2 separate regions of the Homo sapiens genome follow, and region 1 is linked to region 2. The links come from fine-mapping of genetic effects on gene expression. A gene starts in region 2. The other region holds a variant in brackets. All regions are shown on one strand. Distances are from middle to middle.

The links. PIP is the estimated chance that this variant, and not a neighbour inherited with it, causes the effect.
Region 1: its variant is the best candidate, but not a certain one, in a credible set for the expression of PELP1 in whole blood (TOPMed, PIP 0.53).

The regions. Positions count from the first base shown.
Region 1 is chr17:4,655,142-4,658,048 of GRCh38, forward strand. All of the region lies in intron 2 of LOC105371499 (a long non-coding RNA gene), which reads left to right. Among named protein-coding and RNA genes, the nearest start is that of ALOX15, 15 kb to the left of the region's middle. RefSeq lists an enhancer at 1,753-1,922. The variant G/A (reference allele first, on the strand shown) is at 1,349.
Region 2 is chr17:4,702,630-4,705,526 of GRCh38, forward strand. PELP1 (proline, glutamate and leucine rich protein 1) reads right to left here and starts at 1,508. Exons shown (of 17, transcript NM_014389.3): 1 at 1,234-1,508. The coding sequence starts at 1,482. PELP1-DT (PELP1 divergent transcript) reads left to right here and starts at 1,601. Exons shown (of 2, transcript NR_103482.1): 1 at 1,601-1,741; 2 at 2,570-2,897. It also overlaps the pseudogene RPS12P29.

The DNA.
Region 1 (2,907 bases), 47 kb before region 2:
CACTCCAGCCTGGGCAACAAGAGCAAAACTCCGTCTCCAAAAAAAAAAAAAAAAAAAAAAAAAAAAAAAAAAAAGCCAGACGCCGTGGCTCATGCCCATAATCCCAGCCCTTGGGAGGCCAAGGCAGGCAGATCACCCGAGGTCAGGAGTTCCAGACCAGCCTGCTCAACATGGTGAAACCCCGTCTCTACTAAAAATACAAAAATTAGCTGGGCGTACTGCCACGCACCTGTAATCCCAGCTACTGGAAAGGCTGAGGCAGGAGAATCGCTTGAACCTGGGAGGCGGAGGTTGCAGTGAGCCAAGATTGCGCCATTGCACTCCAGCCTGGGCAACAGAGTAAGACTTCATCTCAAAAAAAAAATTGTTTTAAATATATAAACTCGTAAGAAAAAAGACAGTAGGAGAGATTACAACTGCAGATGAGATTTAACAGATTTTGTCACCTGGAAGCAGCCAGGTGATAACCGACTTAACAGATTAGAAAATGATGAGAACGGTGGGCCCAAAATTGGTGGATTCTTGGGCTCACCGACTTCAAGCATGAAACCGCGGACCCTCGCAATGAGTGTAGCAATTCTTAAAGGCAGCGTGTCCGGAGTTCGTTCCTTCTAATGTTTGGACGTGTTGGGAGTTTTTTTCCTTCTGGTGGGTTGGTGGTCTCGCTGGCTCAGGAGTGAAGTTACAGACCTTCGCGGTGTTACAGCTCTTAAGGCAGCGCGTCTGGAGGAGTTGTTCCTCCTGGTCTCGCGGTTCAGGAGTGAACCTGCAGACCTTCGCGGTGAGCGTTACAGCTCATAAAAGCAGTGTAGACCCAAACAGCGACCAGACTTACTACAAACAGCACAAACAAACAAACAAAAAATACAAAGAACAAAACAAAAAAACAACACGCACACACGTGTTCCAGCTTGTTGTTTCTGCGACCTCGGGCAGCCTGCTTTTATTCTCTTATCTGGCCCCACCCACATACTGCTGATTGGTCCATCTTACAGAGAGCTGACTGGTCCGTTTTACAGAGAGCTGATTGGTCTGTTTTCACAGGGTGCTGATTGGTGCATTTACAATCCCTGAGCTAGACACAAAAGTTCTCTATGTCCCCACTAGACTAGCTAGATACGGAGTGTGGACACAAAGGTTCTCCAAGTCCCCACCAGAGTAGCTAGATACAGAGTGGATTGGTGCATTCACAAACCCTGAGCTAGACACAGGGTGCTGATTGGTGTGTTTACAAACCTTGAGCTAGATACAGAGTGCCGATTGGTGTATTTACAATCCCTTAGCTAGACATAAAGGTTCTCCAAGTCCCCACCAGACTCAGGAGCCCACCTGGCTTCACCCACCCGGT[G/A]GGTGGGTCCCGCAGCAGGCCGCACGTGGAGCTGCCTGCCAGTCCCGCGCCATGCGCCCGCACTCCTCAGCTCTTGGGTGGTCGATTGGACTGGGCGCCTTGGAGCAGGGGGCAGCGCTCGTCGGGGAGGCTCGGGCCGCACAGGAGCCCACGGAGCGGGGGTGGGGAGGCTCAGGCACGGCAGGCTGCAGGTCCCGAGCCCTGCCCCACGGGAAGGCAGCTAAGGCCCGGCGAGAAATTGAGCACAGCAGCTGCTGGCCCAGGTACTAAGCCCCTCACTGCCCGGGCCGGGGGCGCCGGCCAGCCGCTCCGAGTGCGGGGTCCGCCGAGCCCACGCCCACCCGGAACTCACGCTGGCCAGCAAGCACCGCGCGCAGCCCCTGTTCCCGCTCGCGCCTCTCCCTCCACACCTCCCCGCAAGCTGAGGGTGCCGGCTCCGGCCTTGGCCAGCGCAGAAAGGGGCTCCCGCAGTGCAGCGGCGGGCTGAAGGGCTTCTCAAGCAAGGCCAGAGTGGGCGCCAAGGCCGAGGAGGCGCCGAGAGCTGCCGGCACGCTGTCACCTCTCAACGAGATGTGCTGGGGGGCAGAGCTGGGGTTGTGAGACCACCAAAATGCATGCCAGTTCCTGACGCAGTGTTACCGAGTGAAAGGGCTCGCTGCCCCATGCACTAGAAGCCGATACTATGGCACCAGGTTTTTGAGAAAACGAAAGCTTGTTATCGCAGTTCGACCAACAAGGAGACAGAAGTCCAGCTCAAATCTTTCTGTGCCAGCTTTAAGGCAGTGTCTTCATTAGAAAATGTTTAAGCCGGGCGCGGTGGCTCACGCCTGTAATCCCAGCACTTTCCGAGGCCAAGGCGGGCGGATCACGAGGTCATGAGATCGAGACCATCCTGGCTAACACGGTGAAACCCCATCTCTACTAAAAAATACAAAAAAATTAGTGGTGGCAGACGCCTGTATTCCCAGCTACTCGGGAGGCTGACGCAGGAGAATGGCGTGAACCCGGCAGGCGGAGCTTGCAGTGAGCGGAGATCGCACCACTGCACTCCAGCCTGGGCGACAGAGCGAGACTCCCGTCTCAAAAAAAAAAAAAAAATGTTTAGCGGGTGGATTCTGAGATGAATAGGTGATTAGTGGAAGGGAAGGAAAGGTCTGGAAAGTCCTCGGGCCTCCACAGTGGTATCTTCATGCCTCTTCATGGGTCATAGGTGCAAATTTGGGGGGCGCTAGTGTGAAAGGTGCAGTGGAAAGGCTGTGAGGTCAGCGGGCTCATTCTGCATAGACTCCAGCTGGCCATATGGATTCCAACTGATTTCAGCCAGTTTTTTTAATCTCATAAGCAGAGGAAGTTTCAGCATTTCAGCAAGAGGTTTCTTTTCTTATCTGCCATCCTGCAAACTTAAGAATTTCTGTTAGTCATTGGTTTCTTTCTCTTTGGGGCATAGTTTCAACAGAGTCCTGAAAAAGCTCAAAAATTGAAGGCACCAATTACCTCTGAATGCACAGACATAGAGTAAGATTGGACACAGAAAATCAGCTGAAAATAGCTAAAGGCAG
Region 2 (2,897 bases):
AACAGATAGGGTTATCTGTGATAAATCTGGGGCTAAGGTTATTGACCCACCCAGCAAATTGTGACAACCATCTTCCTGGAAGGTAGCATAGAGCTAGGAAGGTCCCAGGAATGAAGGGTGGACACAGAAGATCTCGTGTTTATGGGTCTTGAAGGATGGGTAGAATTTGGGGGAGGTTTAGTGGGAGAGAAGGGAAGATAGGAGATTGTTATAAGGAGCAGCTATTATGGGCTAGAAATATGCCTTCTTAGAATCAGTGCCTTCACCCGGACAAGATGGTGGGGGTTCAAGCTAGAATGGGAGCAATGAGAAAGATGGAAAAGAGTGGACAGATCTGAAAACTACTCAAAGGATAAAATCAACAGGACTTGACAGATTGCTTATGGAGGTGTATGAAGAAGAGTTTAGAATTACTTGAGTGTCTAGCTTGCAGAACTGAATGGTTATCAGATTCCATTCTTATAGAAGTCCAAAGGCTCCTAACCCGGCCTAAAACGCTCTGCATGACCCGACCACTGCCTACCCATCTCACCAGTCTCATCTGTACCCACTCTCTTCCCCTCCACATCTGAGCCCCAGGAACGATGCCCTTCTTTCCAGTTCCTTCCTACCACAGGGTCTTCCCACATGAGCTCTCCTCTGACTGAACAGCCCCTCCCATATTTTTTCCCTACCCAACCCCTATTCATCCTTAGGGTCTCAGCTTAAACGCCGGTTTCTTTGGAAAAATCTCTGCCAGTCTTCAGATAAGGTTAGAGACCCCTGATATTCAATTCTCATCTTGTTTCGCAGCATTTTGTGTATCGCCACCACGTCTGTAACCGGAGCGCCTAGTACAGTATCTGACCCTCAATAAGAGCTCGGTAAATGTTTATTGTTGAATGCGTCATTCAGTCAGTCGAAACAATCCCCGAAACAGATATTGCCAGAGGAAAAAGAGACTTTTAGATTATACAACTAGTGAGTGACCGGGCCTGGAACCTAATCGATTCCTGTGTGCCGACCAATAGCCTAACAACAGAAAAATAAGGCCCATTTTTCCCCTGGAGAAACTCATGGCCGATAAAGGAGAAATACGTGCATCCCGTCCGGACTGATACCTGGATCCCCTTTCTGCCCGCAGCTCTCCTTCCTTCAACCTCCCTATCGCACTTGCACTGCACCGTAATCCCGGCGCACAGGTGCCGCGCCATCCTCCCCACAGGGCCGCGGGCACGCGGGCCACGGACTCACCTGGGCCCCGCCCACCGACCCATGCAGCCGCAATAGGCACATGAGCCCGGGCAAATGTGGGGCCGAGCGGTTTGGGGGATGCACCGGAGCAACGGCAGACCCCGTTCGAGGTTGCAGCAAACCAGAAACACTCTCCAGCAGCAGCAGGCGGAGCCGCGGGCCCGAGCTCACTGCCGAGAGACCCCCGGTCCCGCCAGGAACCCCAGCCGCGGAGCCCGCAGAGGGCCCACTCAGAACGGCTGCCGCCATCTTCCCCCGGGTTCCAGTGGTGGCGTGGCGCGATGACGCAAACACACCGCGACGGCCGCCTACTGGGGAGGGGGCGTGGGGAGGGGGCTGCGGTCTTGCGCACTGAGTGAAGGCAGGCTGGACTCGCGGGCTCAAGCTGGGAAGGAGCATGCGCGGAGAGAGCAGCCTGGGCGCCGAGGCAGCGGGGTGCTCGGTTCCCGGAGTGATGGCGGATGAGGCTGCCTGTGAGCGTGTCCGAGGCGGTCCTGTGATGTTAAAGGTACACGTGGTCCGGACAAAAGGCGCCAAAGTCGGAACGATTTCCATTTAGCGGACGGAGTCTTGGGACATCTTCGCTGTAGGAATCAATAACTCTCATTTTTTTTTTTTGAGACGGAGTCTCGCTCTGTGGCCCAGGCTGGAGTGCAGTGGCGCGATCTCGGCTCACCGCAACCTCCACCTTCCAGGTTCAAGCGATTTCCCTGCCTCAGCCTCCCGAGTAGATGGGATTACAGTCGCGCGCCACCACGCCCGGCTAATTTTTTTTGTATTTTTGTAGAGATGGGGTTTCACCATGTTGGCCAGGATGGTCTTGAACTCCTGACCTCAGGTGTTCCGCCCGCCTTGGCCTCCCAAAGTGCTGAGATTACAGGCATGAGCCACCGCACCCTGCCTAGGAATCAGTAACGTGTGTGTGTGTGTACGCGCGCCAAAGATTTATTTCTTCATTTCTTGCATTTCAAGTACTCTTCGATGTCATCCTTGGCCTGAGACTCCTTGCCATAGTCCTTAACTACTACACAACTGCAACCAACCACTTTACGGGGTTTCCCCTCTCTGTCGATTTTTACAGAGCCCTACCCATTCTCCTAGTTTCTTGTTGTCATCAACCTTAATTAGGTTGATTTGGTGTTCAGCACAAAGGCCTCCACCAACTTGACATACATAGTAGGCTCATCATAGTTGGATGCAAGCACACAAAGATGGGCTTGGCGTTTGTCTAAGGCTTTGGCAGCTTCGCGAATTCCACGTGCTAGGTCATGGTGGATGAGAGCGGTCTTCAGCACCTCTTGTGAAGCAGTATTAACATCCATTACCCCTCCAGCAGCAATGCCTTCCTCGGCCGTGGCGGTGGGTTACAAGTGAAGCTGAATCTTGAAGGTACCCAAGCCTCCGCCTCCGCGCAACTCGGCAGCGGCAGGGAAAGAGAAGGAATCAATAACTCTCTAGGTAACTTGAAATCACAGACATTTTTAACTACATTTGCAACTTCAGAAATGATACAAGACGTGCGCCTTGCAAAAGCCAATTCAAACAGTACAGAAAGGCATAAAGTAAAAAGAAAAACTGCTCCTCCCCCGCAAAGCCCTGCCCCAGTAGCGTGTATACTTTCCTAATATTAGTCTATGCACAAGCACATAAATGAATATTTTACA